2 separate regions of the Homo sapiens genome follow, and region 2 is reported to be linked to region 1. Evidence: microRNA targets listed by miRTarBase, many of them from high-throughput screens and not tested one by one. Region 1 holds a microRNA gene; the other region holds the end of a gene's coding sequence.
What was found. The annotated mature microRNA hsa-miR-1267 reads CCUGUUGAAGUGUAAUCCCCA and lies in region 1 at 1,941-1,961, opposite strand. An mRNA with a match to its seed (bases 2 to 7 or 8) in the 3' UTR can be bound and repressed. Matches are read on the target gene's strand: a 7mer-m8 pairs with bases 2 to 8, a 7mer-A1 pairs with bases 2 to 7 and ends in A, and an 8mer does both.

Region 2: miRTarBase lists CPEB4 as a target of hsa-miR-1267. Seed matches in the 3' UTR shown: 7mer-A1 at 2,661-2,667.

Annotation. Positions count from the first base shown.
Region 1 is chr13:107,529,277-107,533,814 of GRCh38, forward strand. It overlaps MIR1267 (microRNA 1267), which reads right to left and starts at 1,972; the gene lies at 1,895-1,972. All of the region lies in intron 1 of NALF1 (NALCN channel auxiliary factor 1), which reads right to left. It overlaps LOC112268110 (a long non-coding RNA gene), which reads right to left. Exons shown (of 3, transcript XR_002957493.2): 1 at 1-4,538.
Region 2 is chr5:173,955,809-173,959,808 of GRCh38, reverse strand. CPEB4 (cytoplasmic polyadenylation element binding protein 4) reads right to left here. Exons shown (of 10, transcript NM_030627.4): 10 at 1-3,899. The coding sequence ends at 3,672. Among named protein-coding and RNA genes, the nearest start is that of C5orf47, 31 kb to the left of the region's middle.

The DNA of each region.
Region 1 (4,538 bases):
GAAACGAGACCATAGCTCTGGTATTAACAAGTTGTATGACTTTCAGAATCACTTCACCGATCCAGGCCTTCAGATAAAAAAGATGAGTAGCAATTGGGTAGGCAGTCAGGAAAGAGAATGCCCCAGATGGCAGAAAGGGAATTTGAAAACGGAGATTTAAGCAAGCAAAGTACATTAATGAAACAGCAAATTATTTGGTAATCTTAGATGTTCCTCAAACTTTCTGCTTTTGACTTTTCATACAACCCTCAATATTCACACTATATGTCCTAGATGTGTGCAATTCAGTGGTCTAATCTGGACTTCCAGATAAAAGGCCAGCAAGGCTGACTTCCAGCTCTTCCAAGATGGCCCCGCAGGACAGTAGCCAACCATTCACCAGCTTGGCTCCCATTGCAATGTGTGTGTGATGATTGGAAGATGTGATGAATTAATTACATCTTTTTCCTTTTTTTAGATCTTCCGTAAGCTCTGACTGCCATGTGAGAGAGGAACGGGCATCACCTGAAGGAAAGGATGATGTCTCAGGACTTTCTAAGAGCAACAGAATGTTGGAAACTATCCATGGTAGGGATGCAGTTGGCTAGTTACAATGCTTGACATCCCTTCATCTAGTGGCCATGGGACTCCAAGGTATCTTTCCATAAAGAACCAAAGCCAAACTCACAATCTGCCTAAACTGCTATTCTCAGCTTTCAAGAGGAAGATGACTGTTAATACCCAAGAGTAAGAATAAGAAGCAAGGGTTCTATAGCTAACTCATGCCTTCTTTCCACAGCTCACTCTTATTCAGCAATATGGGCTCCCTTAGCTCCAACCCTCAAATCCCCACCTGGGCACCTTTACCTTGTTCTCTCTCCACCCTGGGACACTCTCTCCTGCCTATTAATGAGGCAGGCTCAGTCTTATGCTTTATAGCTCAGTCATCTACTTAAGGAGGCCTAAAAGCTCTGTCCAAAGACAAAACCTCCATCCTAGCAAGATAGTCTGCCTTTGTTTACTTCATAGCATATATCCCAATCCATAATTATTTTTATATTTGTTTCCTATTTACTACCTATATCCACCACTAGCATGGATACTTTTAAGCTACTTGATCATCTACTATATCCCCAGAGCCATGAAAACATCATACATAGTAAGTGCTCAGCAAATTACTTGCTGAATGAATGAAGTATATCCATATAGACTGAAGCAAAATCTAAGACATTCCTCTAAATTTAATATTTGTAAGATTTTTTTTAAATGACAAGATTTTTATGTATGACCTGTGATCATTTTAGTATATTCATAACATGTGGATGTATGCAGAAGATGGACTCATTCCACACAAAAATGCCATTGTACAAATACTATCTGTTGAGGCAGCCCAGCAGGTACTACATGACAAATAGGAGGCAAAAATAATATTGCAAATCACCACAGCTATAGAGAAAACATAGTATCACTTACATCATATTGATGTAAGCTGAAATCTGTCCAGAGCTGAGGCTAATCATTTGTGAAAAGCAGCTGACAATATAGAAAGAACAAGCATCTAAGTTATATATGAACTATTTTCACCATTCTCCTTATAAAGTTTTAAAAATAATATGAAAACCAGCAGGATTGCCTGAAATGTGAAAAGAACACTGACGATTTTTATTGTGATTTTTAGTGGAAACATTTTAGTTATGTAAAAACTGTTAAAGGGATAGTCTTTGTACCCTAAAAAAGAACTCTGCTGAACATTGTCATTCACATATATATATATATATACATCTGAGATATTTTATTAGGATGCATTCCTATATTAGGAATTACAGAACTAAAGAGGATGGACTTTTAACATATATTTTAACATAGCTCTCCAGAAATAAAAAGTTCTTGACCACTGATGGAGTCCGGATATTTGTCCTCATCCAAATCTCATGTTGAAATGTAATCCCCAATGCTGGAGGTGGGGATTACACTTCAACAGGAGATTTGGGAGGTATTTGGATCACGGAGGCAGATCCCTCATGAATAGCTTGGGCCATCCTCTTGGTGATGAGTGAGCTCTTCTTCTGAGTGTATGGCACCTTACCCCCAACTCTCTCTCTTTTGTTCTGGCTCTGGTCACGTGACAAAGACTGTTCCTTCTTCACCTTTCACCATGATTGTAAGCTCCTGAGGACTCCCCAGAAGCCGAGCAGATGCCAGAACCATGGGTCCTATAAAGCCTGAAGAATCATGAGCCAATTAAACCTCTTTGTTTTATAAATTATGCAATCACAGGTATTCCTTTATAGCAATGCAAGAATGGTCTAATATAATCAGTGACACTAATCATCAATATTATCTTATTAATTTTCCCAGTTTATTCAACATCAAAACCAGTACATTTTAGTTAAACTCACATTAAATGTTTGTATTTTTTTCATTTTATGAGTTGTCTGTCTGTATTTTTTTCCACTTTTATCTCAGTATGCTCATCTTCTTTTGTTGTTGTTTGACTGGAATACGTGTTGCAAGTAATTTTTCCAGCTTCTCATTTGCATCTTTTTTATGATGGTGTTAGATATGCCAAAGTTTTGTGTCATGTGAAGTATTATCTACTGATACTCCCCTTAGAATTTTTAAAAATTAATTTTATGCTTATAAACTTCTCTGCCATTTTGCAATCTTCTATTTACGTATTTGTTTTCTAGATGACTAACATGGCTTTTTCACAATCAAGTTCATAACGCAGCTGAATTTGCATACTTACCTAACTTGAAAATTTTCTCTCAAATAGTGAGTTATCCTAGAAGCATTTAATAGAAAATGCTTTGTTTCTTAACTGACTTACAAGCTACCCTTTTGTATACTAAATCCTTTGATGTGCTAGGTTCTCCTCCAAGTTTCTTGCAGACAACCAAGAACAAAATGAAAGAGAAAGAAAGTGAACAAAAGTAGAGTTTAAAAAGCTACAGCCTTTCAAGGTCAACATTTTAAAGTAAAACAGCATCTTTTTCTTTGAAATCTTATGGATTCCCACAGTGTAAAACATGCTTCTATCTAATAATCAGTATTAAAGAATCTATTAAGAAATTTCAATGATTTTTGTTTCCCTTGGCTGAGCTCTCATTATGGACTGTTTTGCTGCTTCCTTTCTCTATGAAGAAAAATCATTCATTGCTAGTGTTTTCTCAGTGTTACAATGCTTTTCCAATAAGCGTTCATTCTAGTGGTGTGTGCTTCCTCATCAACAAACATGAAATTTATCTTCTTAAATATCAAGAGTTCAGGTTATTACAAAACCTAAGGCTTACAGTGTGGTATAGTCCAAAATCATACTCCATAAACTACTGGAAAATTAATCAAATTATATTACATGAAGTTTTTATATACTCATATCTTTTGACTTGAGGTATTTCAAATATTTGAGAATCTCTTATAGACCTCATTTCAACTTTAATTTTTCTGTCTCATGTGTTTGGTCCATTTATGTGATTTGCCTGGGACATTAATGAAATTCTCAAGAATGTTAATTTTCAGAAAATATAAATCCCTGAAAAGTTAGCAATTTAGAGATTATTCAGGAATATAATTTTGTGCTAGTTTCTAACGTAATATTGCAATTATATTAACTGAAGACAAAATATTGCCACCTAGACTTCAAAAAACATCTTAAAGGTAGTTGCAGAACTGTTAAGAAAACAACCTAAAAACAGTAGCCATTAACATATTAAAAATGATATAAAAATTAAGAATACATGCTAAGCTGGAAATTTAAAACATCATTTAGAAACCAGACACTTTGACTGGAGGCAGCTGTTGCCTCTCTTTTTGACTTAAACTTTTATTTAACTCATTCTACTAAAATTAATATCCCCACGAAAAGAGAGTTATAACCATAACTTTTAATGAGGCTCAGTTTTGCCCCTTTCTTTTTTCTCTGTTTTACATATTTTGTTTGTAAAGTGACTGTTAGAAACATTTATAGAAATTTACACATTTGAAATGCAGAGTGCTATAATTACGTGAGTGTAGGTTCTTTGCTATGGTTTGAATGTCAGATCCTCCAAAATTCATGTTAAAACCAAATCACCACAGTGACAGCATTGAAAGACAGGGCCCCTGGAAGGTGATTAGGTCATGAGGCTCCTTCACCATAAATGGATAAGGCCCTTCTGAAAAGGGCTTTCAGGTCTCTGCCATGAGAGGACACAGCCTTCCTCCCCTACAGAGGAGGCAGCCCTCATCCAACAACCGAACATGCCTGCACCTTGATCTTGGACTTCCCTGCCTTTTGAATGGTAAGAAAATAAATTTCTGTTCTTTATAAAGTACACAGTGTATGGTATTTTGCTACAGCAGCACAAACAAATGAAGATATTCTTTAATAACTGTTCAAATTAGAGATTCTGTGAATCACATAATTACCAGGAAAGGACTTGAGGAAGTATTCCAAAGGCCATCTTTCAGAAAACAAAACAAAACACACTCTCCAACAAAGCAACACCCCCAAATCTGTCTTTTGTTGAGGGTCTGTGATGCCTAACATGACACCATCCAGGATCATGTCTTCCGTTAAG
Region 2 (4,000 bases), not on the chromosome of region 1:
GAATACAATATTGTCCCGATTCTTACAATGCTATCAATCACAGTAGCTTTAAAATAATAAAATAAAGCAAATGACCAAAACCTCTTTTATTCCATTTTTAAAAATAATCTCAAATTTACATTAGTAGAAAGATTGATTTCTGATTCTTTTCTTTAGAAACACCAGCAAGAAAGAGGATTACTCTTAACAGTAGAAAATGACATTTTTAAATGTCTGCAATTAAAAACAAAGAATTACACTGCAAAGATCTTTCAAAAGTTTGAAATAAGTATTGCACATAACTTGAAGTTAACTTGCCACAATTCATCACATTCAAGTTTTAAATCACCTTTTAACAGAAGATTCAACTCTTCAAAACAAAAGGGGTGAATTATCAAGTCTTTCCAACAGCACTCTCATAAAATGCTAAATTCATTCACTGCAAGTTTTATTTTGCATTCTGCAGAGGTCTGTGTATGGAGAAGTATATATATTATACCAAAGCGCAGGGACCAGAAGGGGAAAGGAGAGGGTTCCTTTACATAGAAAATAATCAGAAACACTTTATTTTACATTGCAAAAATCACCATGTAATTACTCTGTAACTACATTGTAAGTACATGGCTGGCGCCATGCTAGTGCGCTAGAACTACATGCTTGGTGAATTGAAGTGATGCCCTACAATCTGTAAACTAATTACATGTTAATTATGTTTGAGTTACATGGTAACTCCCAACTACAATCCCATGTAATCTGAAGAACATGTAATCATAAAGTTCAGAGTAATAGATAATCATTGTTTATGCCCTGTAAATTGAAGTGTAACCAATAATCTGTAAACACACTTGTCACACAATCACAAGTAAATATTAGTAGAATAACAATTTCTTACATTAGTCATGCACACTAACATTACACACCTGTCCCAAGGCAGGCTATTTTTTTTCCTTATATATAATTTAAAAGAGCAGACATCTCTGAATCAAACACTTAACATCAATTTATTAATATTAAAAATGGCTAAACATTCACCAAAAATGTCTGCATTTTATGAATAATTTTAAAAACTTAGTAAGAAGCTGTAGACAATTTTGTTATTTTAATTTCTACCTTATGCTTATGCATTTAATTTTTTTTTTAGGAACTACAGTGTTATCTGTCATTTTCATGCGAATTTTTTTCATTAATTTGTGACTTTACATAGACTATTTCTTAAATTATAGGTACACCAATAGCTGGTGCTGGGGAAGGATGTTTAAGCAACATGCTTTCTCTTCTCTGCAGACTCTAAAATAGCATTGCCAGTGCACGACATTCATAATTTAAAATGTATGCAGAGCACTGAAATGTATAAAAAGCAGAATATAAGAAAATAAAATTTATTAAAATTATTTATATTAAAAAATGAAGTATATGAAGATCTCTCAGTAATAAAAGTACAAAAAGCTACTCTTTGCAATATGAAAAATTGAGGTATTGCATAAAGAGATATCCCGTCAGTGAAAAGTGTGCCTAAAAATGTTCACTGTTGGAAAAACAAGATATACAAAAGTAGTGCATAACAAATATACATTATGTGCATGACAAAATAAGTTAGCTACAAAAACACTGTACCGAAATTCAGCAGGTCATGTACAAAGGGAAAAATTATTATTCAAAGCTAGTTCTCAAACAGTGTTATTTCTTGTTAACTCATCACACCTGTTTACTGAGTAGGAACAGCACGATAGCACACCCCAAGCCACCTACAAGCATTTAAAAGAGTAAAAAGAGGCAAATGAACATTCCAATTAGAATCATGTAGTTCAGGAGAAAAGAAAAAAAAGTCCCTGACCAGCTACACAAGAGCACCCTCCATTCGCATGACTGCTTTCAGTATTTGCAGGGAATTCTTTAAAAGCAGCTCCCTTTCTATGTTTGAATATTAGACAGCAAATGCCTCCATTTTGACCTTTGGAACTTAACAGGTATAGTTCATTAAAGCCTGTATTAAAAGTAAAGGGCTGCTTTTCCTAAAGATCATCCATAGGGGTCATAAGCCAGGTGGTTCCACAGCAGTGCTGGGGCAAGTCTTTGGTTTTGAAGGATCCAAGATGGTACTGTTAGGTAGCGCAACTAGCAAGATTGCCATTCGATCATATTATTTCATGTTTTGCCCACTGATAATAAACCTTTTAATGATGGATAGGGCATTTAATAAGAGAATGTCAATTAAAATAAAAGTTACTTCCATGACTAGGGCTTCAAGAGACTATTTTAAATTTACCCCTGAAGCATACTGTTCAACACATAACGCCTTTCAAAGCTAGAATTTTATTTATAATAAAGCATGCATTACTTGATGAAGTTGGCACTTCAAACACTGACTATGTCCCATGCTAAATTCGGAAACTGTAATGTTATTTTAGTTTATAGGAAGAGTAAGATAAACATACGTACCTTTGCACAGATTTACACAGTTACTTAGTTCAACAGTGCAAAACACTTTGCAACTACTTCACTTTTTTTAACTGTTTTTTCATTTTCTATGTTACAACTAAATTACAGGATACCCAAAGTAACTTTAAATCTAAAAGTAAGCCAATCAGCAGCCAAATTATATATTGGTTTTGTCTTCCAGTTTTGGCTACAAGTGTACTGTAACACAAAATCAAAAATGATATCCTTGAGGTATCTCTAGATCTGTTGTTGTTTTTTAACGTCAAAATGGAGAGCAAAGGCTGACATCTGATGAGTATTAGTAAATTAGGATATAGAGTTTATATATAAACATCAAAAATAACATTTATACATTTATTCTTCAGGAGAGGAAATGCTAGGTTTCCCACCAGTTGTCATTAATTCTAGCTTTGGTAGGTTTCCTGGGGCTTTGACCAGATAAGTAAGTTAAATAAATAAGTGCACTCCCCTCAGTAGTAAATTTACCCAATTTTTACATTCTGAATTTTAAAAATTGTTTAAGAGAAAATAAACCTAGCTCTGCCTACTTTACTATTTTTTTTTTATTTTTTCTGATGTGGTGGTAACTTTTTGAGGGATAATGAAATTATGTTCAGCCTCAAAACCCTGAAAATTAATTATAATGCTGCTCAGTCTTGCTTATGCATTTGTTTGCTCTAACATGCTCTTTCCATTAAAAATTGTTAACTTCCTCCATTGCTGTTAAAAAAATTAAAAAGGGATGGAAAAAAGAGAGAGACAAAAAAGATGAAAAAAAAAAAAAAAAGAAAGGAAAAGGCAAAAGCACTTCCCTGGGGGAAAAACTGTCAGATAGACCGATAGTGTTATTGTTGCATGGTTATTTTAATAAAAGTATTCTTATATGTTATATTATTAACAATAATTTAATTAAAAACCCAAAATACTCTATTGTTTCATTTCTCTTTTAATATTTCTCTCTCTCCTCTAAGAAAATGTTGCAGGAAGTTTGGATCCTCTTGGTTTCCAGCAAAACAAGAGAATAAAACTTCCATGCAACCCGATGGCAATACGAAAAAGGAGTTCATATTGTTTGCAGTGACACAAGAATCTACAAAACACCTATATTATAGGTCATTCTTTTCATTATACTATAGTTAAGTTACAGACTGCTACAAAAGGACATGCCAGCGTGAAGAGGTTGAGGAAGGGGTCAGAATGAACAGAAGAGTGCACTTATTCTGAGGCCTGAAAATGAGCACTGCAGTTATCCTTTAGTTCCAGCGGAATGAAATATGCCGAGGGCGGTCACCGCCTTCCTTCACCAGGGGCTTGTGGAATTCCCTGCCAGCACGAGAATGGATAGCAGCCCAGCAATATTCACAGTAATACTGCAGACAGGTAACATTAGCACAGAAAAATGGAGCAAATTTCCCCCCACAACGGGCCCCCTGACATTCATCACACAGCTGATCATCCAAGACATATGGCTTAACTTCCACCTGCAATCAAAAATAAGAGTTTACATTTTTCAGTGACTAGGCCAGCAATGCTTACCATACATGTACATTTCCACCCACTATCTGAATGAATCTGTTCCAAG